2 linked regions of the Homo sapiens genome follow. The protein of the gene in region 2 purifies or fractionates together with the protein of the main gene of each other region. This does not show direct contact. Each region holds a gene or a part of one and is shown on either strand. Other genes may lie near its edges.

Region 1 (3,810 bases), on a different chromosome or scaffold from region 2:
AGCTAAGAGATGGTTTCGGATAGAATGACAAAGCATTGTCATCACTTCATCTCCTTGCTTTTTAAGCTTTTTTGACAACTTTAACAGGTACTTTGACCACAGAGTGCAATCTAAACCTTACTTCAACTTATTTTATAATAAATAAAGGATTTTTCAATTATATAATTAAGTTTTTGGTTAAAAGGACATTAAATTAATTTTTTCATCATTTCCCTGTACCCTATGCGGTTTCTCATTTTGTTAAACTTCTAAGATAGAAGGTACTGTCAGGGATGGGAAATGGATGGGAACCAGGCTTTTTTTTTTTTTTGAAAGACAGGGTCTTACTGTGTCACCTAGGCTGGTGCAATCATGGTTCACTGCAGCTTCGACCTCCGAGGCTCAAGTAATGCCCCTGCCTTAGCCTCCTGAGTAGCTGGGACCACACAGGTGCATGCCACCATACCTAGCTAATTTTATTTTATTTTATTTTTGCAGAAACAGGGTCTCACTCTGTTGCCCAGGCTGGTCTCAAACTCCTGGACTCAAGCAATCCTCCTGCCTTGGCCTTCCAAAGCGCTGGGATTACAGGCATGAGCCACCATACTTGGCCTAAAACTAAGAACTTCTGTTCATCAAAGGACATCATTAAAATGAATGGCAAGCCACTGAGTGGAAGATAGCTGCAAGATATATATTCAACAAAAAACTCCTTAGTATTCTATATTTTTTAAAAAACTCCTACAAATCAGTTTTAAAAAAAGATAATCCAATAGAAAATGGGCAAGGGACTTAAGCACTCACAAAAGACATCAAATGGGCAATAAACAGATGTAAATGCTCAATCTCGTTAGTTATCAGAGAATGTAAATTAAAACCAAAATGAAAGACCACCACCAGAACAGCTGAAATGAAAAAGACTGTTTTCCAGCATATTTACACAGAGTAGAAAAATAAAGACTCTCAAAAATATAGGGCAAAAGCAACTTTCATAAGCTCCTGGTGAGAATTTAAATTTCTACAACCACTCTGGAAAACCATCAGCATTATCTTCTTATGTGTTAAAATGGAGCAGTGATTCTACTCCAAAGTACATACCAACAGAAATGCAGGTACATGTACACCAAAAAAAAGTACAATAATGTTGATGGCAACATAATTCATAGTAGCCAAAACCTGTAGACAACCCAAATGTTTAACTACAATGTTTACATTTAGAAAGCATATTTAAGAGGTAAAACTATTAAAAAAAAAAAAAAAAAGGAAGCAAGCAAATACCAAAAATTCAGGATGGTGGTAATCCTTCAGGGGGAAAGGGAGCACGACAGTGCTAACAGTGTTCCTTTGCTTGACCTGGGAGGATTCACTTCATGATAATTTGCTGACCCGTGCATTTATGTTTTACCTTCTTTTTGTATGTGTGTTACACTTCACAGAAAAAAAGTGGGAAATAATGAGTTTTAATGCCAGCTGCTGGTTACATGGAATAAGTTAAATAAGTTACTTCTCAGTTTCCACTCACCAGCTTGAAAAAATGATGCTATGTTGAACAAATTTATCAAATTATTCTGAAAACTTCAACTATTAAATCCAGAACATATTATCCTCTCAAATTAAGGTTCTCAACAACCATACTTTATAAAGCATAATTGGGAGAATCACTTGAGCCCAGGAGTTCAAGACCAGCCTGAGCAACATAGTGGGACCCCGTCTACGAAAAATTTAAACGTTAGCCAGGCAGGTGGCGTGCGCCTATAGTCCCAGCTACTCAGGAGGCTGAAGTTAGAGGATCACTTGAATCCAGAAGGTCAAGGCTGCAATGTGCAGTGATCGTGCCACCACACTCTAGCCTGGGTGACAGAACCAGACCCTGTCTCAAAAACATACATACATACATACAGACAGACAGACAGACATAAATCATAACTGCTATTTGTGAAAAAAAAAAAAAAAAGACCAATTGTGTTACTAATAAAAACTCTACCTAGGAATTAAATAGCTGACCTGTCAAAAGTTTCCCATTTTGTTATCAACAGCATACATTTTAGATTAGTTTCTTTTGAGAGGTATACTAGAAAAGGAATTCCAAACTTACCTCTCTATTGGGTGTACCTTCATCAAGTTGCTCTGTAAATGAAGATGTCCTGCTCCTCATTCTTGTTGGTGTTGAAGAATTGGAGGACGCCTAGATTTAAAAATTATTGCACAAATTAGCAAGACTATATTGACTAGTGAACTATGAACTAGGTAGTCCTTCTCTCAGTCCATGCCCAAAGAATTCAGTGAAAGAAAGGAAAAGAGCAAAAACACGAAAAGCAGAAAAGGATAACAAATATAATCAACTAGAAAACCCAGGCTACCTACTAGGTCCCTGGCCTAACTCTGCCACCAACTAGAACTATGATCTTAGCTACATGAACTTTTTGAGGACTATGTGTCTCCATATATAAAATAAAGTTGCGATACTAGTGTAAGATGATAATATTAGAGAAAACTGAAGCCAGGTGAGGGGTATATAAAAACTCTCTGCACTATCTTTAGAACTTTTCTATAAACCAAAATTATTCCAAAATTAGAAGTTCATTTAAAAAAAAAAGGCTGGCAATTCAATCTTTAAGATCCCTTCTACCTTCTAGCTCTAACATTCAATAGTATGAAATGCACAGATAAACAGCACTTGCCCACCTAATTAATGGCCTTGCTTTGAGCCTACCTTGAATACCACTGCTAAATACTGAGATGCTATTCCATTTAGCTCTGTAATTGACAGCCTGACTCCTATAACCCTCAGCGCAAAAAAACTCAGGAGAAAGGGCTCAAAATTTAAACTAGAGGTCTGGGGTCTACTCTAAGGTGAGCTAAAAACAACCCTAAAAGTATAAAACCAAAATTTTGAAATCCCCCTACACCCACAGCAAAATAGATCTGAACTCAGATCTATTTTGAGAAATGAATGAGTCATGATATCTTACCTCTTTTTGTAGTCTGCACTTTACAAAAGGCAGTTAATAAATATTTGTCAAATAAATGAATGAATGAATAAACAAATGGAACTCTGGTCTGTGGTATCCGTGCACAAACTGCTGTGGTTAGGGTGGAACTGAGAGGTCGTGAGGAATAGTATACAAATATACACATACTCTATATACACATATATACATCCAGACAGACATATACATATTTAGCTTATGATAAAAGTAACATTTTGCATCAGGATAGACATTCAATAAATGTTGGGACAACTGGCCATCCATATGGGGCAAGACACACAAATCAGATCCTTCATACTTAAGCTATATTAAAGATTTAATTTTTTTTATTGAAATACAAAAAATTCAAGAGTCTATTTCTACAATCTCTGAATGGGAAAGAGATTTTTATGTGAAAAACAAATCAAAGCAGCAGTTTAATTGGGAGGTGAGGAAAAGCATCTACAAATATGACAAAAGTTTAATAACCTTTTTTCTATAAACAGCTCTTATAAGTCCGTAAGTTAGAACTCAGAAAACTTACTAACCCAATCTTCTTTTTATCTGAGACAGGGTAACCTGAGCTCCATCAATGAAACACATGAGACTTCGAGTCATAAGTGAGTGATGTGAAAAAACAGACATACAAATAAAGTTCATCATCTGATGACAATGGAGACAGAACTTCATGCATCCACACAAATATAAGCTGTGAAGTGACAGATGCAATGCTGGTGCCAAGCTGAAGCAGCTGCAACACAGAGTAGTCTCCCCAGTATAACTGGACGTAGCAATCAGCTCAGACTTTTGGGACCTCAGGGAAATTCTGTAGGGTAAAGAGTCTTCAATAAATTATTTTTCT
Region 2 (3,842 bases):
ATGGGCCTCAAGTTCTTGGGCACCAAGTACCTGGAGGTGACGCTGAGTGGCATGGACTGGGCCTGCCCCTGCCCCAACATGACGGCGGGCGACGGGCCGCTGGTCATCATGGGTGAGGTGCGCGATGGCGTGGCCGTGCTGGACGCCGGCAGCTACGTCCGCGCCGCCAGCGAGAAGCGCGTCAAGAAGATCTTGGAGCTGCTGGAGAAGCAGGCCTGCGAGCTGCTCAACCGCTTCCAGGACTAGCCCCCGCAGGGGCCTGCGCCACCCCGTCCTGGTGAATAAACGCACTCCCTGTGCCTCAGACCTCCTGGCTTGCTGCTGCTGGTCGGGCGACCCTCATCCTTCCAGGTGCCCCATGCCCAGCCAGTTTCCGCTGGGGCCTTGACACCCACTGGGGCTTGGGCTTTGGTACAAGGTCACCAGGGAGTGCCTGTCCGCCCCTGCATCCCCAACCAGCTCCATCCTGCCTCAGCAGCTGTCTCGGCCCCAATCCCACTGCCCGAGCTCCAGCAGCAAGGATCAGGACGTCCCAAGCCCTTGACCCCACAGGAGACCCCGTCTCCCACCCAACCTCACAAGGTGCTCCTAGGAGGAGGTGGGGCAGACACCAGCAAGCCGGCAGCAGGACATGCTTTATTCTGAGCAGGCTGGGCCCTTCGGCCAGCGGCTGAGAGCACAGACTGGGTGGGGCTGTCGTCCACAAGGTCCGGCCTAGGGAGGCAGGGTTCGTGCCTCACAGAGCCTCCGGCAGGGATGCAGGTGTGCGGGGGTGAAGGAGGGGCTTAGTTTTTCCGGAAGATCAGGCATTTGTTGTTGGCTGGCATGTCCACCTGGAGAAACACTTTGCTGGAGGACGGCCCTCAACCCCTAGAGAGGTTGCCTGGGCCCCCGCTCCCCCACCTACCATCCTCTCCAGGAGCAGGCCACTGGCCTTTCCCAGGTCCTCCAGGAGGGCTGTGTCCCGAAGCCCCCATTCTGGGTTCCTGCAGAGGGTGGGGAGATGGAGTCATGGCCTGGGGGGTGCCACCCAAGCCACCTGCCACCTGAGCCAGACCCCCCGCCTCTAGCTCTGACCTGCATCTGAGCATCAGGTCAAAGTCCACGTTGCTCTGGGGGGAGATCTTCCCATTGATGGCATAGGGCTGTGGGCATGGGGACACAGCCCACTGGACCAAGGTCGGGGTATTTCCCAGAGAGCCTGGGACAGACTTGCAGGCTGGGGTTTGGAGAATGAAAGGGCACCCCCTCCCTGTCCCCAAGAGGGAGTCAGCCAAGGCCAGCCTGGTGGGCAAGGGGGTAGGGAGGCTGGCAGATGACCCAGGGAGGGGTACAGACTGGAAGTGGAGGGGAGGCCGTGCTGGTGGCTGGGCGGGGGGCAGGGAGCCCAGGAGGGAGGACTCTCAGCAGGGCAGGAGACAGCAGCTAGGACTGGGAGCGGGAGGCCCGCCGTGGACAGGCCCACTCACCCCGTAGGTGATGAGCAGGGCCCTGGGTTTGAGCAGGTGTCCTGCTGCTCTGAAGAGCCCCTGGTGAGTAGGAACAGGACGGCAGTGAGGTGCTGCCCCCAACAGAAGCCAGGCCCTGAGGCTGGAGACCCTCACCCCGACTGTGATGGGGGAGGCTGGAGACCCTCACCCCGACTGTGATGGGGGAGGCTGGAGACCCTCACCCCGACTGTGATGGGGGAGGCTGGAGACCCTCACCCCGACTGTGATGGGGGCAAATCTGGCATCCCAGCTGCCCCCATGCAGGGTGAGTGGTGCCACGGCAGACACCCATGCTGGGCTCCCCACAGACCTCCGTGCAGCGCAGGGGGCTGACATGGGCCATGTTGATGCAGAGCAACAGGTCCAGCGACTGTGGCAGGATCCCGCCCCAGTGCTCCCAGCCCCACGTCACGTCCAGGTGTAGCGGGGCCTTCACGTTGGTCAGGCCCTGGGCTTGCGTGGTGGCCGCGATGCTGCAGGAGGCGAACGCTTGGGTGGGGGCCGAGTCCTGTGCACCCGCCTTTCCGACGCCCCCACAGAATTTCTTAGGGGAGGCTGGGGGGCACGTTGAGGAGCGGAGACCAAAGCGGCTGGGAAGGGGGACCCCGAGGTCCACCCACTTCCGCAGCCGCGGGGGCCGCACAGCTAGGGCCTGCCCCGGGGGCACCCCCAGGCTCCCACCCCGCACCCTCAGAGCCCGAGCCGCATCCTTTTCCTCCGGGGCTGCGGGCCGTGGGCTCTTGAGGCCCCGGACCGCCGCACCGATAGAAGTGGCCGCCCCGGGGGCCGCACCTGTCCAGGCAGCGCTGGTCCACGTCCGACGGCTGCCACTCGGCCAGGGGGAAGGCCCGCGCGAAGTGCGCTGCGTGCTGGCCGGAGCCCGAGGCCACCTCGAGGACGCGGACGCCACGCTGGGCCGGATCCAGGTACTGCCGCAGCACGTGCAAGATGGGATCCTTGTTCCGCTCCGCGGCCGCCGCCACCAGCATCGCGGCAGCAACAACTCCCCGCCGCGGACGCGGCGCGGGTCGCGTCGGGGGCGGTGGCCGGGCTTCCGCGGGGCACGTCGGGAGCTGTAGTCCAGATACCGCGGGGCACGTCGGAAGCTGATAAACTACAACTCCCAGGAGCACGCGCGCCTCCTGTTAAAGGACCAGCAGTCGCCAGAGGCACGGTGGGGAGCGGCTCAGCGGTGTGTGGCGGTCCCAGGCAGGGGACTGAACGGCGAGCTTGGCTTGCTGGTTTACAGGCGCCTCAGCTCAGGCACCCTGTCGCCCATGGCCGTCCAGGGTTTTCAGGGCACCTGTGTCACTCTCCGAAATTTGTGTCAGCGCTGCGCCAGACTGGGCGCCTTCCCTTGGTTTCGGGTTTTCTCTACTTTTAAATTTCTGGCGTTAGCGAGAGTTCGATGTTCAAATGGGAAAAAAAACTAAGTGCGCCGCCCGGGAATCGAACCCGGGTCGCAAGAATGGGAATCTTGCATGATACCACTACACCAGCGGCGCTGTCTAAGACAGTTGCTGCCCGCGGAGACAAGAGACTGTGACGCGGGAAGTCCTCCGGGCGTGCGCCGCCGCTGGCGCCGGGCTCAGCGCAAGGGAGCTGGCGACTGCATAGGAGGACCCAGCTGGCGGGACCGCGAGGGTAAGAGTCTCGCGGTGCCCCCCAGTGCCGGAGGGGAAGGAGCGGGCGTGAAGGACGCGAGCTGGAGGACAGTCTCGATTCGGGCCTGAGCCGTGGAAGCCGTTGGCCTTCGTGAGCCGATGGGGGCGAGGCCCTGTCGGGGCGGGGCTGGGGAGAGGGCGGGGCTGGGCTGGGGCCCCCTGTTGGTCCGAGTTTAGGGCGGGGTTGCCGGAGGGGCGGGGCCATATCGGGGCGGGTCCGAGAGGGGAGGCGGGGCTGGGGGGCGGGACATGAGTGTGGACTGGCGGGTTGGGGCGGGGCCAGAGCGGGGTTGCGGCAGGGGCGGCAGGGGCGGCAGGGGCGGCAGGGGCGGCAGAGGGCGGGGCGGGCGGTCCCAGCCTGCAGAACTGGGCGGTCTGCGGGAGGGGCACGAATAATGCCCCAGGGTTTCTCTGTGACACTGGGGTAACAGCACCAGCTCAGGGCCCACGGATAGCGTGAGGGGTCGGTCGGTGACCCCCGAAATCAAGTCACAGGCCGCGATTTATGTGCGCCCGAGGGTTGGGGTCCCAGCCTCAGAGCCGGGCTCTTCTCCAGAAAGTGCCAAGCGCCTGGCTCTGCATTCAGGACTGGCTTAGCGCCTTTGCTGAGCCGTTTTTCACCAATGGGAACCCCATATCGCTCTGGCTAGGGCAAGGACGTTGGAAGGGGTAAACCAGGGAGGGCCAG

Evidence for each region.
Region 1: the proteins of METTL26 (region 2) and GOLGA4 purify together in Homo sapiens (affinity purification with mass spectrometry; one large-scale study listed by BioGRID and IntAct). This does not show direct contact.

What each region holds. Positions count from the first base shown.
Region 1 is NC_000003.12:37,249,749-37,253,558, reverse strand, and holds part of GOLGA4 (golgin subfamily A member 4), read right to left. Parts: intron 2,165-3,810; coding exon 2,075-2,164; intron 1-2,074. UniProt on the Homo sapiens protein: Involved in vesicular trafficking at the Golgi apparatus level. May play a role in delivery of transport vesicles containing GPI-linked proteins from the trans-Golgi network through its interaction with MACF1. Involved in endosome-to-Golgi trafficking.
Region 2 is NC_000016.10:633,812-637,653, forward strand, and holds METTL26 (methyltransferase-like 26), read right to left. Parts: upstream 2,495-3,842; 5' UTR 2,480-2,494; coding exon 2,283-2,479; intron 1,964-2,282; coding exon 1,801-1,963; coding exon of another isoform or gene 1,707-1,800; intron 1,530-1,706; coding exon 1,470-1,529; intron 1,253-1,469; coding exon of another isoform or gene 1,146-1,252; coding exon 1,078-1,145; intron 987-1,077; coding exon 908-986; intron 834-907; coding exon 786-833; coding exon of another isoform or gene 715-785; 3' UTR 619-714; downstream 1-618. Other genes in the region: WFIKKN1 (WAP, Kazal, immunoglobulin, Kunitz and NTR domain-containing protein 1 precursor), read left to right, coding at 1-246.